3 linked regions of the Homo sapiens genome follow. The protein of the gene in region 1 purifies or fractionates together with the protein of each later gene. This does not show direct contact. Each region holds a gene or a part of one and is shown on either strand. Other genes may lie near its edges. The genes, in order: ACKR5, FASTKD1 and LMBRD2.

Evidence for each region.
Region 2: the proteins of ACKR5 (region 1) and FASTKD1 purify together in Homo sapiens (co-immunoprecipitation; 2 studies listed by BioGRID and IntAct, with this or other methods). This does not show direct contact.
Region 3: the proteins of ACKR5 (region 1) and LMBRD2 purify together in Homo sapiens (co-immunoprecipitation; 2 studies listed by BioGRID and IntAct, with this or other methods). This does not show direct contact.

The regions. Positions count from the first base shown.
Region 1 is NC_000012.12:56,992,233-56,995,986, forward strand, and holds the start of ACKR5 (G-protein coupled receptor 182), read left to right. Parts: upstream 1-2,259; 5' UTR 2,260-2,416; intron 2,417-2,961; 5' UTR 2,962-2,977; coding exon 2,978-3,754. UniProt on the Homo sapiens protein: Orphan receptor.
Region 2 is NC_000002.12:169,532,211-169,535,964, reverse strand, and holds part of FASTKD1 (FAST kinase domain-containing protein 1, mitochondrial), read left to right. Parts: intron 1-3,754. UniProt on the Homo sapiens protein: Involved in the down-regulation of mitochondrial MT-ND3 mRNA levels which leads to decreased respiratory complex I abundance and activity.
Region 3 is NC_000005.10:36,103,288-36,107,041, forward strand, and holds part of LMBRD2 (G-protein coupled receptor-associated protein LMBRD2), read right to left. Parts: intron 1,911-3,754; coding exon 1,781-1,910; intron 820-1,780; coding exon 759-819; 3' UTR 1-758. UniProt on the Homo sapiens protein: Recruited to ligand-activated beta-2 adrenergic receptor/ADRB2, it negatively regulates the adrenergic receptor signaling pathway. May also regulate other G-protein coupled receptors including type-1 angiotensin II receptor/AGTR1.

The sequences.
Region 1 (3,754 bases):
ATTACAGGCATGCACCACCACGCCTGGAATTTTTGCATTTTTAGTAGAGACAAGGTTTTACCATGTTGGCCAGGCTGGTCTCGAATTCCTGACCTCAGGTGATACACCTGTCTCAGCCTCCCAAAGTGCCAAGATTACAAGCATGAGCCACCTAGCCTAGCCCATTATTTTTTTTTTTTTTTTTTTTTTTTAGGAGATGGGATCTAGCTCTCTAGATCCCATCACCCAGGCTTCAGTGCAGCAGGGTGATCATGGCTCACTGCAGCCTTGAATTCCTAGTCTCAAGCGATCCTCCCACCTCGGCCTCCCAAATACAGACTGTACCACCACAACTGGCTATTTTATTTTTTGTAGAGATGGGGGTCTCATCTTGTTGCCCAGGCTGGTCTCAAACTCCTGGGCTCAAGCAGTCTTCCCACTTCGGCCTCCCAAAATGCTGGGATTACTGGTGTGAGCTACTGCACCGGCCATGATAGATTTTGTGATCTTGGAGTGATCTGATATGTAAGTGGAAGGTTTAAGAAAACTACAAAACTACAAAATGAAAAATATTCCCTTCCATGGAGATAAATGGTGCTGATGGTTGCACAGCAGTGTAAATGCACTTAGCGCCACTGAATTGTACACTTAAAAATGGTTAACGTGGTAAACCTTACATATATTTTACCATAATAAAAGAATCAGTGAGCAAACTTTTAAAAAATGTTCTCTTTGAGTGGATAAAGAAAATGTGGTGTGTGTGTGTGTATATATATATATATATATATGGGAATATTACTCAGCCATGAAAGGAAATGAAGTACGGATGCATGCTCCAAAGTGAATGAACCTTGAAAACATGCTAAGTGGAAAAAAAAAAACACAGACACTGAATGTCACATATGATATGGTTCCCTTTCTATTAAGTATCCAGAATAGGTAAATCCACAGGGACAGGAAGCAGAAGGTTGGTGGTGGGGGGAATAGGATTGACTGCTTAATGGTTATGGGGTTTTCTTTGCGGGTAATGAAGATGTTTAGCACGTAGACAGAGGTGGTGTTTGCACAATGTGCATGTCTAAATGCCATTAAATCACACATTTTAAAATGGTTAATTTTATGCTATGGGAATTTCACCTCGACTTAATATATACTCAATCCCGTCCAGCCGACACACCTTTGGCTCAGGCCTAGGCCACTCTGCCATCTGCCAAGTGTGGCTTGTGTAACAGACAACTTCTCTGGGCCTCAAAGAGGGTGAAGAAATCCATCCTCCCCACAGGGGTATCTCCAGAATCCAACGAGATGAAGTGAGGTGAAAGCGCTCTGAAGGGCAGGAAGCTCTGCTGACACAAAATGTTTACCCATAACACGTGGCTTAGAGTCCCTTACCCTCTAGCTTGGCGGGAGAGAGAAGTCTGCTCTCCCTACCCCACGCCCCATCCCCTGCTCATCCCCTGCCAGCCACCCACCACACCCTTCACGCAGAGAAGTATAGAGCCACAGGGGGAGGGCGCCATTCTCTCTCTCCCTCCCTACTCAGGAATCTCCCTGAAGCTTTGACAAAGCCCCCTTGACACCCCGCATTCAATCTTATTTTTATTTTTTTTTATTAACTCTGTCACCTAGGCTGGAGTGCAGTGACCTGATCTCAGCTCACTGCAACCTCCGCCTCCTGGGCTCAAGCGATTCTCCTGCCTCAGCCTCTCAAAATGCTGGAATTACAGGCGTGAGCCACCATGCCCAGCCATTCAATCTTTTCTTTCCCAGATTCTCACCTCCAATCACAAGATGAAGGCAGGGAGCTCACAGCCCTGTGAGGGGCTGGGGAGAATGGCAGGGGTGGGCCAGAGTTATTAAAAGCCCAACTGATGTTCAGATTTATTTTGACCCTCCCCTATACCCCCACATCCAATTTCACTCTAGTAGGAATCAAGACAGGGGAGAGAGGGATTCCAAGCTGACTTAGGGAGAGGAAAATACATACATACGTAAAGCATTTGCCACAGGCCCCACCTGAGCTAAGCACTTTCCCTCCCTCAACAGCTCCTTTAATTCTCAAAGCATCCCTTTTAGTAGATAATAGACCCCACTTTGCAGAGGAGAGCACTGAGGCTGAGGAAAGAGGTAAATTCATTCAGCGGGTGAGGGAGGAGCTGGGATTTTAATGCTGGCAGTATGACCTCCCCGCCACTGGCACACCGGGTCTTTTGCTGGGACATCCCCTGTAACCGGATTGGGGGAATGCAGGAAAAACCCCATCCCTCCCTACAGAGCCTCAGCAGTGACAGCTACTTCCCGGATGAGAAGGGCGGCCGTGAAGCCAGCAGGGAAGCCAGCCCCACAGCCAAGGGCCCCCCAGCCTCCTCACAGCTCCCCATAGCCTGGACCTGCCGGCCCTCCCTCCAGGACCGAGGGGCTCCCAAGGGAAACTCAGGTGAGTGTCGCCCTCTCCCAGGGAAGATGGGAATCAGGGCTTGGAGACAACTGGCTATCCTGCATGATCCACAGGTTTTCCTAGGGATGAATCAGATTGTGTGGTGTGCGTGTGTGTGTGTGTGTTCCACACTCACGGTCCAAATAACAAGACAGAAAAAGAGCAATAAAGATCTGTGCAAAAGGGCTGAGGAATGAAGTGCCAGGAGAGAGGTGGAGGTTGGAGACCACCTAGGAATGGTGGGTGTGGGGGGATTGAGGGGGTTGTTGAGGGGGAACTGGCTGGGGGTGGGGAGAAATGTTGGTGGACACCAACAGTCCTGGCCTCTTCCAGCTGAAACCCCTTAAGAAAGTATCTCTGCTCTTGGGTCAGAGCTAGCAAGTGAGTTGTGTATTATTTATTCACAGTTTGAAAGCTAAACTTCCCTTTCTTGCCTTAGCCCCAGAATCTTTCCCCAAAGCCCCCGACTCCCTCTGGCCTCTACCTTGAGGACACAAGGCTCTCGAGGTCTGCTTTCCCTTCCAACCCTCCCTTCATCCCAATAGGCGTGTGCTGGTCCCAATGTCAGTGAAACCCAGCTGGGGGCCTGGCCCCTCGGAGGGGGTCACCGCAGTGCCTACCAGTGACCTTGGAGAGATCCACAACTGGACCGAGCTGCTTGACCTCTTCAACCACACTTTGTCTGAGTGCCACGTGGAGCTCAGCCAGAGCACCAAGCGCGTGGTCCTCTTTGCCCTCTACCTGGCCATGTTTGTGGTTGGGCTGGTGGAGAACCTCCTGGTGATATGCGTCAACTGGCGCGGCTCAGGCCGGGCAGGGCTGATGAACCTCTACATCCTCAACATGGCCATCGCGGACCTGGGCATTGTCCTGTCTCTGCCCGTGTGGATGCTGGAGGTCACGCTGGACTACACCTGGCTCTGGGGCAGCTTCTCCTGCCGCTTCACTCACTACTTCTACTTTGTCAACATGTATAGCAGCATCTTCTTCCTGGTGTGCCTCAGTGTCGACCGCTATGTCACCCTCACCAGCGCCTCCCCCTCCTGGCAGCGTTACCAGCACCGAGTGCGGCGGGCCATGTGTGCAGGCATCTGGGTCCTCTCGGCCATCATCCCGCTGCCTGAGGTGGTCCACATCCAGCTGGTGGAGGGCCCTGAGCCCATGTGCCTCTTCATGGCACCTTTTGAAACGTACAGCACCTGGGCCCTGGCGGTGGCCCTGTCCACCACCATCCTGGGCTTCCTGCTGCCCTTCCCTCTCATCACAGTCTTCAATGTGCTGACAGCCTGCCGGCTGCGGCAGCCAGGACAACCCAAGAGCCGGCGCCACTGCCTGCTG
Region 2 (3,754 bases), on another chromosome or scaffold:
GGATGTTTAGTCTGAAAAATAGAAGTCTTATGGGGACCATAATGTTTTAAAATGTTTGAAGGATTGTTAAGTAGAAGAACTAGATATCTCTATCTCAAAGATGAACAAAATGGTAAAAATGAAAGGAAGCAGACTTTAACTTGGTATAATGAGAATTATTGACTGCTTTCTGAAGAAGTAATGTTGAGGCAGAGGCTGAGTATTCAGATGATAGATGTGTGTGATTTTTGCACTGGGCAGGAAGGTGAACTAGATAATCATTAATGCTCTCATCTTGTGCTATAAAACACAACTTTCCTTTGATTTTATGTTAATCAGGATTGAGTTGGGTATGAGTGACAAAAATCCATAAATTGGCTGGGCACAGTGGCTCATGCTCATACACATAGTCTCAGCACTTTGGGAGGCTGAGGTGGAAGGATAGCTTGAGCTCAGGAGTTTGAGACCAGCCTGGGCAATGTAGTTAGACCCTGTCTCTAAATAAATAAATAAACAAATAATAAATAAATAAATAAATAAATAAATAGCAGGCATGGTGGTATGCCCCTCTAGTCCCATTGCTCAGGAGTTTGAGACCAGCCTGGGCAATATAGTAAGACCCTGTCTCTAAATAAATAAATAATTATCAGGCATGGTGGCATGCCCCTGTAGTCCCATTAGGAGGCTGAGGTGGGAGAATCTCTTGAACCCAGGAGTTGAGTCTACAGTGAGTTACAGTCACGCTACTGCACTCTAGCCTCAGTGACAGAGCAAGACTCTGTCTCTAAAACAAAACAAAACAAAACAAAACAAAAAACAAACATTGAAGCTGGGCATGGTAGTGCAAGCCTGTAATCCTAGCTACTTTGAGAGACAGAGGTAGGAGGATCACTTGAGCCCAGAAGTTTGATACCAGCCTGGGCAATATAGTGAGAAGCCATCTCTTTTTAATATTTTTCTTTTTTTCTTCAGAACAATATGAATATAACCCCATCTCTTAAAAAAAAATTACATGAGACATGCTTAACATAGAAAAACTAGAAAAGGAAGATAACAAAAAAGAAAAATTACCCATGATATAGCCGCTGTTTGCTTTTGGTGTCTGTTTTCCTAACTTAAAAAAAAAAAAGACAAAAAGGTTTTCTTCTGTAGTGTTTGTGTTTTAGTCCTTTTCTGCTGCTACAACAAAATACCTGAGACTGGTTAATTTATAAACAACAGAAATTTGGCCGGGCGCAGTGGCACACGCCTGTAATCCCAGCACTTTGGGAGACAGAGGCGGGCGGATTACCTGAGGTTGGGAGTTCGAGATCAGCCTGGCTAACATGGTGAAACCCCATCTCTACTAAATATACAAAATTAGCTGGGCGTGGTGGCGCACGCCTGTAATCCCAGCTACTCCTGAGGCTGAGGCAGGAGAATCGCTTGAACCCGGGAGACGGAGGTTGCAGTGAGCCGGGATCGTGCCACTGCACTCCAACCTGAGCGACAGTGAGACTCTGTATCAAAAAAAAAAAAAAAAGAAAAAAAAAAAACAACAGAAATTTATTTTTCACAGTTCTGGAGGCTAGGAAGTCCAAGCTCGAGATACCAACAGGTTTGGTATCTACTAAGGACCTAGCCTCTGCTTCCAAGATGGTACTTTGAATGCTGTGTCCTCCCATGGCAGAAGGGACAGGAAGGCAACAGAGGATGCTCTTTTATAGGGTCACTAATCTTATTAATGAGGGCTCTGCCCTCATGACTTAATCGTCTCCTAAAGGTTCTGCCTCTTTTTTTTTTTTTTTTTTTTTTTTTTTTTTGAGAAAGGGTCTTGTTCTGTCACCCAGGTTGGAGTGCAGTGCAGGAGTGCAGTGGCATGATCACGGTTCATTGCAACCTCTGCCTCCAGAGCTCAAGTGATTCTCCCACCTCAGCCTCCTGAGTAGCTGGGTCTACAGGCACACACCACCACACCAGGCTAATTTTTGTGTTTTTTGTAGAGATGGGGTTTCACCATGTTGCACAGGCTGGTCTTAAACTCCTGAGCTCAAGCAGTCCTCCTGCCTCTGCCTCCTAAAGTGCTAGGATAACAGGTGTGAGCTACCACGCCTGGCCTAAGGTCCCACTATTATTATTAACACATTGATGATTATGTTTCAACAGATGAATTTTGGGGGACACATTTAGATCATAGCAGTTTATAACTTTATATGTTGTGAATATTTTTCTATGCCAACAGATATGCTTATACAACATCTTTTTTAGTTACTGCATATTTCATTGAGTATGCTATGATTTAATCAATCTGTAAGATTTTTTTGCTGGTATGTCCATCTGTCAAACAATGCTGCAATTTCATATAACAACAATAATAGGTTTATTTTTATATATTGCTTATTATGTGTTAGACACCATTTTAAGTACTTCGTAAGTACTTGTGTGTGTGTATGCATATAGTAAACTTATATCCCTATGAAGTATGTAAATTATTTGCAGATGAGGAGACTAAAGTCCACAAACATTATTGATTGCCCAAGGTTATATACCTGGCAAATGACAGAGCCAGGATTTGAGCTTGGCATTCTGGCTCTAGAATTCATTCTCTTAATGAATTCTATATATTTCATCTTTCATAATTAATTTAAAGATGGTTCAGTGCCTGAGTTTTTCACCAGAGTTCCATCTGATTCTTTTCAAATCACAGACATCATTTCAGGAAGTATATTTAAAAGATAAGAATGACTTAAAAAACATAACAACAATATCATCTTTATCATCCTATAACCATTAATAATAATTTCTTAATATCTTTTAAGAAATGTTCAGCAATATGGGAAATTTAACGTAAGTAGACAGATGGGAAATTTTAGATAAAATTTAACATTTTATTGAAATGTTAGATTTGGCATACTATAATGAACTCAATGATCAAGGATTGAAGGTAGTAGAATTATGGGAAATGTCACATAAGTAGAGAGATATGGGAAATTTTAGATAAAATTGAACATTTATGGGAATTATGGGAAATGTAACATAAGTAGGGAGATATGGGAAATTTTAGATAAAATTTAACATTTTATCGAAATGTTAGATTTGGCCTACTATAATGAACTCAATGGTGAAGGATTGAAGGCAGTGGAACCTATTCCTCATACGTCTCATGCACTGCACCCCTATACCTTTGCTTTTCCTGTTTTAAGTGTCTTTTATGTTTATTTTATAGTTTGTCCAAATTGGGATCTTAACATTCCACTTGGTTGGTTTGCAGTTTTTGGTTCAACTTTTCCTTTCCTACTTCTTTTTTTAACTTAAAATTTGAGAATAAGTTTTTTTTTTCCACATTTCGAACTTTTCTAATTGCAGCCCTGTGATAACATTTAAAATGTCATCTGATAGTTTTTAATGTTTTTACTGTAAACCTGGGTTTGCTGTAAACCATTAGTGATATCTAGAGATTTGATTAGATTTTAGGTTTTTTTTTTAGGTTTTTCTTTTTGGCCAAAAACTTCATAAGTGGCTTGTACTTCTTTCTGCATCCTCTCAGGAGGCACACAAGGCTGGTTGTCTTTTTCTTTTTCTTTCTTTCCTTTTTTTTTTTTTTGTCTGGCTCTGCTGCCTAGGCTGAGGTGCAGTGGCACAAGCATGGCTTACTGCAGCCTTGACCTCCTAGGTTCAAGGGATCCGCCCACCTCAGCCTCCTCAGCCGGAGTAGCTACCACTACACCTGGCTTATTTTTTAAGTTTTTTGTAGAGATTGGGTTTTGCCATGTTGCCCAGGCTGGTCTGGAACTCC
Region 3 (3,754 bases), on another chromosome or scaffold:
AATGATAAATGTGAACATAGCTTTCTGAAATGAAAATCTTTTATAAAGCAATACCAGAAGCATAAAAAAATCCAGTTACTACAAAGACTGAAGGAATACTATATCACCTGATTATAGTACACATGCTAAATACACAGACACGCATCACTTGAAGTATAATCTTAATCTTATACATGCAAAAATCCCCCACGAGTTTGCAAACAGATTTGAAAAAGCACTTTTTACATTCAGTTATGTCTAGTAAGTAAGCCTTGTTTTAAGACACGAGTTTTATGAATACAGTTATTATTTGAGGTCTCCATTCACTTACATTTCTTTGGGAAATACAGGTTGAATATACTTTTTAGAAGTAACAAAAATGTAAGTCACAATAACAAAACTGTATATAATATTATTTAGTATGACTTATGGCTTCCTTGAATCTTTAAAATAACTCTCTTGAAAAAAAATTAATCTGAAACAAACTGAACTGCATGTTCTTAACATATGTTGATCTTTCTTAAAGTCCTTCCACTGTAACTGTATTTCTAAGGCAGATGCTTAGGAAATGATATGTAATAAATCTTGTTGAAAAAGGTGATACTCTATTCAATGCACATTAAACTATTATTCCTAAGATATAATTAATTCTCAGTGCCTTTTTTGTTATCTTGACACTTTTCACTGTGTATAGAGGAAATTCTAGGGTACACAGATGTTCATCAAGACTGAACTGATGTGTTGACCTTGGTTAGTGGTCCCACAAACTTTTTCAGACTTTAAACATCATTAAATATGTCACTGCGAGACATCGAGAGATATCGTCCACCAGGCTGATACCTAAAAAGGGAACATAAAGAAATGATCTGAGGCATCAAAAATAATAAAGGAAGAGAGGAAAACAAGAATACATTAAAAGGGAGTGGCCATATAATTTGTAAGTACTGTAAAATCTAGTCAGTAGCTGAAAGCAGAAACTTACCCTCCAAGTATATTATCCAAAAGGACTTAATTATAAATCAACCAGCAACGGTTTTAGACCCTAGAATATATGCATGACAGAGTGAGAGATGTAAAAAGAAGGGGGCAGGGGATGTAAGACACATCTGGGAGATTAATCAATTCAATAACCACTCTCAATTGTTGCAAATAAATATAACCTAGGTTTTTACTGCATATAGGCAATACTATAGTAAACATTTTCGTGCACATGATATTTTGCTTTTATTTAATTATGTGCTTATAGCATAATGGCTAAAAGTACAGACTCTGTAGCCAGAATACTGGACTTTGAATGCCTGACTTGCCATTTACAAGTTGTGTGACTCTGGGCACTTTACTGAGCCTCTCTGGATTTAAATCCAGCTGAATTTGCAACCATACAATTACAATATTTTTGCTAAAGGACTTAGAATAGTGTCTGGCATCTAGACACTGCTATGCAGCAGTTACTAAATATAATAAATTTCACAAATGGGACAATCAGAAATAGGCATATAAATATTGTTGTGATCCTTTGCTATATATTTCAATTATTCTTTCTTATTTATAATACCACTAGTATTGTATGAAGATAACAATTTTAGTTACCATTACTGGATGATATAAAAGCATTAGAAAGTCTAAAAAGGTATCAAAAGTTACTTAATATATTTTTTATTGTTAGTGAAAATGAACATTTTCCTTTACTTATCACTTGTTTACTTTCACCTTTACTTACTTATTTTCAATCTTGTCAAGTCAATGTGTTATTAAAAGTGTAGAGGAATGCTAGAGCTAAAATGTCACAGCCAGAACTTACCTTCCTGATTCAGATTCAAGAGGATCATCAGTGAATGTTTCTGCATTAAAATCCAAAGGTTCTGCATCTTGGAGAAGTTCTATCCGGTCCCTTTCAGTCCTGTTATTAGCCCTGGTATATTTGAATGCAGCTGCAAAGGAAGGGGGAAAAATGTCTACTTCCCTACTGTCTTTTAACTTATGGGTCACAGTCTATGGAGGTACAGAAAGAAAAATCAAAATTCCAAGGAATCTGAAGACAAAGAACATAAGAAAAGATAACTACATGGTTCCTTAAAATCAGATTAAAATTATAAGCAGTATAATAGAATATAGCAAGGAAAAGTTCTCTAGGCTTGTAGTTAGCTAAGAAGCTCTCTAAGCTCAGAAGCAGACACAGTGCAAACATTTCATTAGTGTAACTCAGAATTAACATTTAACTATGGTATCACAATGGTGAAACTGTTTATTAACAAAAGTAGTTTGAGTTGGTTTTACAGTAAACCTCATTTCTTGGCTAGGACTTTAATGTGTAATCAGCTCAAACTCTTAAAAAAAGGTGTGTCTTTTTACCATAAGGCAAGAGTATGGGTAGCACTAGCCAACATCGGCACTAGCCGATATTTAATTAGAAATTTTCTAGTAGCTATATTAAAAAGTAAAAAGAAACAAGTGAAATTAATTTTAATATATTTAAACACAATATATCCAAAATATTACCATTTCAACATGTTGCAAGTGCTCAATAGCCACGTGTGGCTAATGATTATCATACCAGACAGCAGATAAAGAAAACTAACTCTCCCTTCTCTATGTGGATAGGGATTTCTATATAAACAAACCAAATTTTCACAATGTTGTTCAGAGGAGTCCAAGTAGATTTACAACAGCTTTATGCTATAGTTCTTTCTGAAAACTTAATGCAAGCCAATTCTATCATATTTACATTTTTGTAAGCTTGGACTCTGTCCCAAATGCAAATCTCTTCATCTTTTCTCTCACTCATTCAGCAAATCGCAATTGCCCAATACATGCTAGATTCTCTCTAATTCATCATCCTATGACTTTGTGACTCCTCTTCTTTTAAGCACTCTCCCGTCTTGCCAGGTCTTTCTATTCTGTAAACTTCTTCCACTCTATGGTAAGCAAGCATCCAAATCCCTTTACAGAATCCTATTTCCTAGTTTTAACTAAGCCTTTAGCCCTTTCCTATTTATTATACCCTAAAGTCCTTCAAATAAATCCTTTTCTCTTCATCTCCAGGACAACTGCCTTATTTTAGACCATAATCATTTCTTGACTGTATTACCAAACAGTCTCTGAAATGGTTTCTAGTCTCACTTCCCCAAGAATTATGCTTTATACTGCCATCAAATTCATCTTTCTAAACCAAAAATCTTATCATGCTTCTTCCCAGATTGAAATCTTACCTTTAGGTCAAAATCCCAACTTTTTTTTCTTTCGTTTTTTTTTTTTTTTTTTTTGATGGAGTCTTGCTCTGTTGCCCAGGCTGGAGTGCAGTGACATGATCTCGGCTCACTACAACCTCCTCCTCCTGAGTTCAAGTAATTCTCCCATTTCAGCCTCCTGAGTAGCTGGGATTACAGGTGCATACCACCATGCCCAGCTACTTTTTGTATTTTTAGTAGAGATGGCGTTTCACCATGTTGGCCAGGCTGGTCTCGAACTCCTAACCTTAGGTGATCCACCCACCTCAGCTTCACAGGCATAAGCCACCGCGCCTGGCCCCAAATCCAAACATTGGAGAATGACAATATCTGTTCCCCAACTACTCTGTGGCCTCCTCTCTTATTAGCCTCCCCATGCTTAGGCTTTAGTTAGAGAAAAACATGCATTTTCCCAAAGGTTCTCTCATGCCACAACGTCCTGCACTTAGTCTCCCTTCTAATTAAAATACCCTTCACCTGGCTAGGTACTATTCCTTCTTAAATACTCAGCTAAACATGTCCTTATTACAGAAATATTTCTTCATTAT